Linked DNA regions of Homo sapiens: region 2 is linked to region 1. Evidence: fine-mapped expression QTL. Tissue or cell type: whole blood. Region 1 holds a variant in brackets; the other region holds the start of a gene. All regions are shown on one strand. Distances are between the middles of the regions.

Region 1 (4,164 bases):
GCTTTTTTTTAAATCAAGGGTATTGAATTTTGTCAAATTTTCTGTATCAATTGAGATGATCCCTTTTTTTTTTTTTTTTTTTTTGAGACGGAGTCCTGCTCTGTCACCCAGGCTGGAGTGCAGTGGCGTGATCTTGGCTCACTGCAAGCTCCACCTCCCGGGTTCACACCATTCTCCTGCCTCAGCCTCCCGAGTAGCTGGGACTACAGGCACCCGCCACCACGCCTGGCTAATTTTTTGTATTTTCAATAGAGACGGGGTTTCACCATGTTAGCCAAGATGGTCTCGATATCCTGACCTCGTGATCCACCCACCTCGGCCTCCCAAAGTGCTGGGATTACAGGCGTGAGCCACTGCGCCCAGTAGATCACATGTTTTTTTTATCTTATCAGTGTGATATATTATAGTGTTTTTCATATGTGAAACTATCCTTGTACTCCAGGGATAAATCCACTCGGTTATTGTGCATAATACTTTTAGTACGCTGCTGAATTCAGCTTGCTAGTATTTTGTTGACAATTTTTCCATCAATATTGATCAGAGACTTTGGTCTGTAATTTTTATTTCTTGTAGTGTCTTTGTCAGGCTTTGGTGTGGGTAATGCTGCTGTCATAGAATGAGTTAGGAAATGTTCCACCCTCTTCAACTTTTTGAAAGAGTTTGAGACTATCAAAAGATTTTTTAGCAATAACCAGTACTTCCATCCTTACTGTAAGTCATTATTAAGAAAGATGAAGGCCTAGTTTTTGCTCTTGAGGAATTTGTCATATGAGAATGAATCAAAGGAAACCTAGAAAAATCAGCTGTATAAATGGACATATTTATACAACTCTACAGGGTAGGTGGAGGAATGCAGAGTAGGAAAGTATTGGTGAAATCACAGGGATGCAGTCAGATTGTCCAGCCCAAAATGGGAATCTGGAAATCAACAGCAGTCAAAGGGACTGGAAATACTAAGTATAATTGCAATTTAAGAATATTAACTTATGATACTATTGGGTAATAGAATTTCTAAGACTCCATCAAACTAAATTTTCCCCTTTCCTTTCCCTAAGGAAAGGCCCTAAATTACTCTTGAGGAATTCTCACTCAGGCAGCCACTGTAGAGCCCCAACTCCTGAGAAAAAGATTTTACTCTATTTTGTATCATATACATCTGTTATAATGCATCTAAATAACTGGATCCTTTAAAAATCATCTGTTCTGGCCAGGCGTGGTGGCCCATGCCTGTATTCCCAGCACTTTGGGAGGCCAAGGCAAGAGGATTGCTTAAGCCCAGGAGTTCGAGACCAGCCTGGGCAACACAGGGAGACCTTGTCTCTAGAAAATACAAAAAATTAGCCAGGTGTGGTGGTGTGCACCAGTAGTCTCAGCTACTTGGAGGCTTGAGCCCAGGAGGTTGAGACTGTAGTGAGCTATTATCACACCACTGCAACCCAGCTTGGATGACAGAGTGAGACCATATTTCAAAAAAGAAAAAAACCTGTTCTCAACAATTTGTCATATAATTAAACTGTGGTATAAAACATAACTGAGGAAAGCTCATACCTCCTGCTTGCTTTCCATTAGCCAAACTGTCTTAAGTAGTGCCGCTATATTGATTTGATCAAATCTGGATGATTAGTAGAATGTTTTGATTCCTGAGATTGATCCCTGAAGATTTTGATCCACTGCAGATGAGAAAACTAGTTTTCAGAAGTTCCCCGGTGATTCTGATCAGCTGGGTTTTGGTGATTAGAATTCCGTGGGATGCAATTCGTCTGGAGTTCTCTAGCGTGTTCCTGTAAGGTCTCTGCCAAGCCAGAGTTGATCTGACATGGGGAGAGTTGTCAGAAAACCAAATCATTTCAGGATTGCTCAGGGAAAACTTACACGGGGTGTAGCACCTGTCTTCTCATACATCGTTTGAAGAGCTGCTGTCTAGGGGATGTTTTGCTTCTAGGGTTGAATTGGGACTGCATTGAAAAGGACAGAGAGCCACATACTGAGTACAAGTAAGAGCTTCCTGGTTGTTCAGCAGGGAGAGGAGCTGACATACTAAGAAATAAAGTGTCAAACGTACGTCATTAGACTGTTCATAGGTGGGGTTCTTAACACTGGCTGGAACAAGCTTGTGCAACCCGCGGCCCATGGACTGTAGGCCGCATGTGGCCCAACACAAATTCATCAACTTTCTGAAAACATTATGAGATTTATACATGAACCTTTTAAAAAAATTTTTAGCTCATCAGCTATTGTTAGTGTATTTTATGTGTGGCCCAAGACAGTCCTTCCAGTGTGGCTCAGGGACGCCAAAATATTGGACACCCCTGGGCTAGAAGGTTGCGCAGGATAACCTTAAGCTTCTTCCCAGGTGAGGCAGCTAAGACTGGGGAACTTACCCAAGGTCACTGGTAAATGGCCAAGCTAGTGCCTGAGCATATATATATATATATT[T/AT]TTTTTTTTTTTTTTTTTTTTTCGAGATGGAGTCTTGCTCTGTGTCACCTAGATTGGACTACAGTGGCATGATCTTGGCTCACTGCAACCTCTGCCTCCCGGATTCAAGCAATTCTGTCTCAGCCTCCCGAGTAGCTGGGATTACAGGCGCCTGGCTCATTTTTGTATTTTTAGTAGAGACAGGGTTTCACCATGTTGGCCAGGCTGGTCTCGAACTCCTGACCACGTGATCCACCTGCCTGGGCCTCCCAAAACGCTGGCGTTTTGGACCTGGGCCCATATTTTCTATTCCAGGGCTCATATTTAGTTCTGCATTATGCTGTCCTTTGTCCTTTAAAATAGCTGGACCTAGAGTGCTGTAACACACTATAGGGAGAGTTTACATTGCCACTGGTCATTAGGATGGCAACTATCCCATCACCAGTTCCTGACTAGAACAGAGGTGGGTTGAACAAAACACCAGTCTGAAGATTTTAGAGTGGCAGTCAAGTTTATATCACCTTCAGTGTGAGCAGGCGGGGTGGTGTCAAAGTGACATTACTGGTGTTGGGTAAGTCTATGCTGCATTAATAAAACACTTCCCACCATCTCTCAAAACACCTTCCTTTGAAGATTCAGGTTCTTCAGACTGAGGAGCCTCTGAATCGTGACTAGCTTGATAGAAGACTTTACATTAAAAAGTAACTGAGAGATGGTCTATTCACCTTGCATGACTGTGCTATCTTTAATCATCAATCTTTGAAGTGCACACTGGGTCATTCGTAAGCAAGATTACAGAGAATAAAATAGAATTTTGATACCACTGTATTCGCCATGTCATTACAAAGTCTGTATCCACTGTCAGGCCCAGAAACAAGACAGTAATATACTGTCTGCACATTTTGAGATGAGAAATGCAATGATTGTGTTGTTTTTAAACTAGTTGCTGGAACTTTTTTTTTTTTTTTTCTGGTAGCTTTTTCCTTCAGTTAGAAACCATTTTCCAAACAATATTCTTAGGCTACAAAAATGAATGTTTTTGTGGGTGGACTTTTACTGGATGCTAGTTATTTATAACCTATTGAAGTTTTACATTTAAGAAGGAAAAATGATAGAATGAGGAGGAAAGTAGACATAAAATTTCATGTCAATGGAATAGATTATTATTCCGTTAGATACAATAGATTATTATTCCATTAGATGTAATGGAAACCTCAGAAAACAGCTGCAAATAAGCATCTGACTTATTTTCCCAATACTACATATGTTTATCATTCCCTAAATCATCAGTTGTTGCATTTTGATTAAATTGGTTTGTTGAACACATGTATTTTTAAATTTTCTGCAAAAAACAAATTCCTATCATGAACACAAAGTAGGGGCATCGCAGTATCTGGATTTCTACACATTATTTGTACTCTGTATTTTACTACCTATTAAACTATTGATTAGAACTGATTTGAAATTCCATTAATTTACCTTTCCGCGTGTGAAGTTACAAATCGAGATGAGGTTTAGGATCCTGTGCCACAGTGTGCAGGGGTTGGGAGATGAGTCCTTGTAGAAGATACTGCTGGGTGTGGAGCAGAGTTCAGAAGGTGACAAGCCTTAACCATGGGAGGGAGTCCTAGGGGAGGATGCCTGCGCTTCCCTGGCTTGCACAGCTAGGTCAATGGAGGAGGCTTTTGCTGAGAATCTAGGAAGAGAACCAGCTTTGGGGGCATGAGTGTTTCATGGTATGGATGTACC
Region 2 (4,164 bases), 390 kb before region 1:
GAGCCGAGATCGCGCCACTGCACTCCAGCCTGGGCGACACAGAGAGACTCCATCTCCAAAAACAAAACAAAACAAAACAAAACAAAAAAACAAAAAACCCCACAAAAGCTGCCAAGCTCCATTTCGGCTGGAGGTCAAAGAAGAGTTCAAGGGAAAAGATGAAAAAAATGGCTTCTCTCCATCTGTGGGCATGTCTGTAATTGCCACCCCATCTCTGCATGTCTCCTCCCAGGAACACTAAAGCACCATCTTCTAGGCGTGGAGACATCTGACAATGGAAGTCTAGAAAGCTTCCTAAACCACCTGCTCTGGACACAGCTGCCTTCAAAGACGGACTGCAAATGGATGCTGGCCGGTAGCTTCAGTTACCAGTGATTACTTGGTGTGAATCTACCTGTGCTATTACCTTAGCAAATTTTAAGTCTTTAGTTTGGGCATTAAATGTTTCAGTTACTTGTACATACTTCACATCCTTTTAATGTTTTCATGGACTCGTACTGTTTACTGTTTCTCTCACTACTTCAGTCTAGCAATGCAAGGAACATTTAAAGTTTGCCTGGGTTTGGGGTTTTTTGGCTTTTTTATTCTTGATTCTGCTACTAGTTGTGCGACCTTGGGCAAATTTGTTTCAGTTCCCTCATCTGTAAAATGGGTAATAATAATAATTGGCTCATAAGGTTGTCCTGAAGATTGAATAACTTGAGATATGTTCAGTGCGTAGAACAGTGTCTGGCACATAGGCAAAAGCAATCACAAATGTGGGCAATTATAATTGCTGAGCACCTAACTTTTCCCAGGTATTGTGCTACTCAGTCTGTCCCCGAATCTACGTCACACAAAATATCTTGGCATTGAGAAATAATTTTGATAGAATAAAATGAATCCTTAATTCTTCTTGATTAACTTGGAAATGGCCAAGATGCACACCTGGACTTTCGGTCTCACACAAGAGTTGTTTCATTACCTCCCTATTTTAACAGTGAGCGTCGAGCTACCAGCAGCTAAAAAGGAAATGGAGATTTCGTCTTTGCTCCCAAAGAACTATTTAAAGCTTTAGTAGTTGTGTCATCTGTAATAAAAGACGTAATGCTGACTCAAGGAGTTAATGAGAAATAAGACAACGCCTTCCAGTGGACAAGTAGCCAATAAATGTTAGTTTTTCTTCGTACCAGGAATCCAAACATTCCAGGTATGAAGCCAGATTAGGTGGCTTCACGACTGTGGACTCGCAGTCTGCCCTTGAGGAATTTCTTATTGAAGAAGAAAAAGAGGGGGGACACGGGGCCCAGACCCCCAGCACCCGGCTTTCGAGCAGGCTCCACGGGTCCGGGTCCGGGTCCGTTTTCCCTTTCGCCAGCTGGGGCCCCGTTCGAACCTCTCCCAACTACAACGCGGAGGCTCCGACGCCCCGGCCCCAGCTTTGTTTTGCCTCCGGGAGCCGCGCGCCACCGGGGACCCGCGGGGAGCCGTTCTCACTCCGAAGCTGTCTGCTCACCTGCAAATCGGAGACAGCGCCCTTTCACTTACGATCCTTATAAAAGACGCTTATAAAACATTTTATTCAGTGTTACATTAAAAAGACGTTTATGAAAGCAATTTATAAAGCCCTAGTGGGAGACCGAGATTGGTGTTAATGTAACTGGAGTAAGGGCTGCTCCGATTGCTGCAGAAATTCGACATTAGCCTTCACCGCACCTGCGGAGCAGCGGGAGCCAGGTGAGCAGCAATTTCCCCTCAGGGACTTCCTCCGCGTTCTCCGCATTTTCTGTCGGCGGAACTGAATCCCAACAGTAGAAAAACGTGGCTCCGCCCATCACCTTTCCTTTAAAGGACGCGGGGTGAAGCCCCGCCCACTACGGAGAGCGAAGGGGACTCGCCGCAGATCCGCTGTACTTGCGTCCGCTACAGTATGTCAATCGCTTGCCCCAGCACAGGTAATGCTAAATATGAGGCGTGCGGAGCGGTGCGCGGACCGGCATCGGGAGGGCGTGGCCTTAGGGGGCGCCCCTGTGGAGGAGGCACCCGGAAGGTCAGGGCTACCCCGTCCCGCCGGTACCGAGGGCGGAGAGGCTCCGCAGGTCCTGCTGCGGAGTCGGAGGGTTCTGCCGGGCTGTAAAGCCATTTTCAGCGAGGCCGCTGCACGAACTTCCGAGGGATGTTAGACCTAGAGTTGCCGCCAGCCCCACTGAGCTTTTCTAGTTCCGTCCCGACATGCGCGCCCTCGTTTGTGCGCACGCACGCACGCAGTACGTCGCTACGTCCCGTCTCTAGCCCTGGCGCTCCGCCGGTCCCGTTCTGCAGGTGGGCGTCGCCGCCGACTTACCAACAACCGGGTCGGGGGCTCCCGGAAGTGCTCTTGCGGCTTACTGCCTGGCACAGGTGGGGCAGAGCGAGCCAGGCGAAGGGCGCCTGCGCAGGACATGCTGGACAAATGCGTTGTTCTTGCTGCCTGCTGTTGCGGGAGGAGGCCTTATGGGGGAAGGTCGCGAAGTGACTGGGATTTTTTTTCTCATTTGTCATTTAGTGGGCTCCGTGGCTTAAGACTTGAACCAAGTAAACGAAGTTCTCTTACTGAGAAGTCTCAGTTTCAAGTACGTGTTGTGAAAGGCCTAAGTCTTAGAAAAGTAGAGGATGGAGAGAAGAATCTGAAAATCGACTACTATTCATTCTGTCAGGCACAACACAGTAACGAATAAGTCCATTTTGTTCCTGCTTCGTAGAGTTTACGGTCTAGTGATGGAGAACAGCAGTGCTAAGATCATCACAAAACTGTAATTGTAATGAATGTTTTAAAGGAAAGGTCAACTGGACTGTAGAAGCATTCAGTGTTAAGCTCAGTAAATTGGGGGAGGGATGGGAGAACTGGCTTAGTTTGGAAGGTAATCAGAAGAATGCGCTAAGGATCTGGCGTTTCCTAAACCAAGGACGAGAGTACTGTATTTCAAAAACCGAATGGCCAGTGTGGCCTAGGCATAAAGAAGAAACTGGAGAGGTGGGAAGGGCCTTTTGGCCTGGCGAAGGTGTAGATCTTTAATCTCGGGGCAGTTTTATTTAAGGTGAGGAAGGTCCTGGGTGTAGTGACCGCAGTGCAGTGGGAACTGGTTGCCAGGGCTCAAGCCGAGTTAGGAGACTGGCAGGAATCCAAACGAGGTGGTCGATGTTTTAAACTGACGGTGGTGACAGTGGATACGGAGAGGACTGGATGGATTCGAGTGGGGTTTAGGAAATGAAGTCGATGAGGCTTGGTGTTGGGTTGACTGGGAAAGTGGAGGCGTCAAAGGTGTCTTGGAGGTGACTGGAGGTTGTGGATGGGTAGTGATCCCATCACTAGAGTTCTGGAAGAAGACTAACATAGGATTAACATAGGAGAATAAGTTAAAAAAAAATTTTTTTTGAGAGTCTCACCCTGTTGCCTAGGCTGGATGCTTAGGCTGGAGTGCGGTGCACGATCTCAGCTCATTGCAACCTCTGCTTCCCGGGTTCAAGTGATTCTCCTGCCTCAGCCTCCCAAGTAGCTGGGAATACAGGCTCACGCCACCAGGCCCGGCTAGTTTTTTTGTATTTTTAGTAGAGATGGGGTTTCACCATGTCGGCCAGGCTGGTCTTGAACTTCTGACCTCAAGTGATCTGCCTTCCTCAGCCTCCCCAAAGTGCTGGGATTACAGGCGTGAGCCACCGTGCCCGGCCGTAAGTCCAGTTTTTAATACAGAGTCTTTAGCTCTGGGTTTAAAAGCTTTTTAAAACATATGGTTATTATTTCAATTTAATAGCTAAAGAAATAAGGTTAAATAGTTGGCCAAAGATATAATGTTGGCTTTTTCCAGTGTTCTAAATGGGAGTTCTAGCACGTAAACAGCTCAGCCTCATTATGGAGAGTACACTTTGTGCTCCCTATGGAAGAGCAAAACCAGAGCCAAGGGAGGGGAGCATGAAGGCCCAGTAACGGTAGCGCAGGCCCTCTGGGATTAAGGCTGCACTGCTCAGGCCAGAATGGGGCAACTGGGACAGTTTGCAGGCAGAAGCAAGGACTTTATGAAACTTCTTTGGAAGGTGTAAAAGAGTTCTTAGAGTCATGAGAATTGGCAAAATTAATTTCACAAATATTTAGTCCGCTAGAATCTATGCAACTTTGATCCAATCTCCCAGGAAAGAACAGATAACAGT

Evidence for each region. PIP is the estimated chance that this variant, and not a neighbour inherited with it, causes the effect.
Region 2: MTIF3 starts here. The variant in region 1 is fine-mapped to the expression of MTIF3 in whole blood (INTERVAL, PIP above 0.99).

The regions. Positions count from the first base shown.
Region 1 is chr13:27,058,055-27,062,218 of GRCh38, reverse strand. It overlaps LOC105370124 (a long non-coding RNA gene), which reads left to right and starts at 70. Exons shown (of 2, transcript XR_941767.3): 1 at 70-4,164. The variant T/AT (reference allele first, on the strand shown) is at 2,437.
Region 2 is chr13:27,448,279-27,452,442 of GRCh38, reverse strand. MTIF3 (mitochondrial translational initiation factor 3) reads left to right here and starts at 1,879. Exons shown (of 5, transcript NM_152912.5): 1 at 1,879-1,934. RefSeq lists enhancers at 1,445-1,504, 1,525-1,884, 1,728-2,642.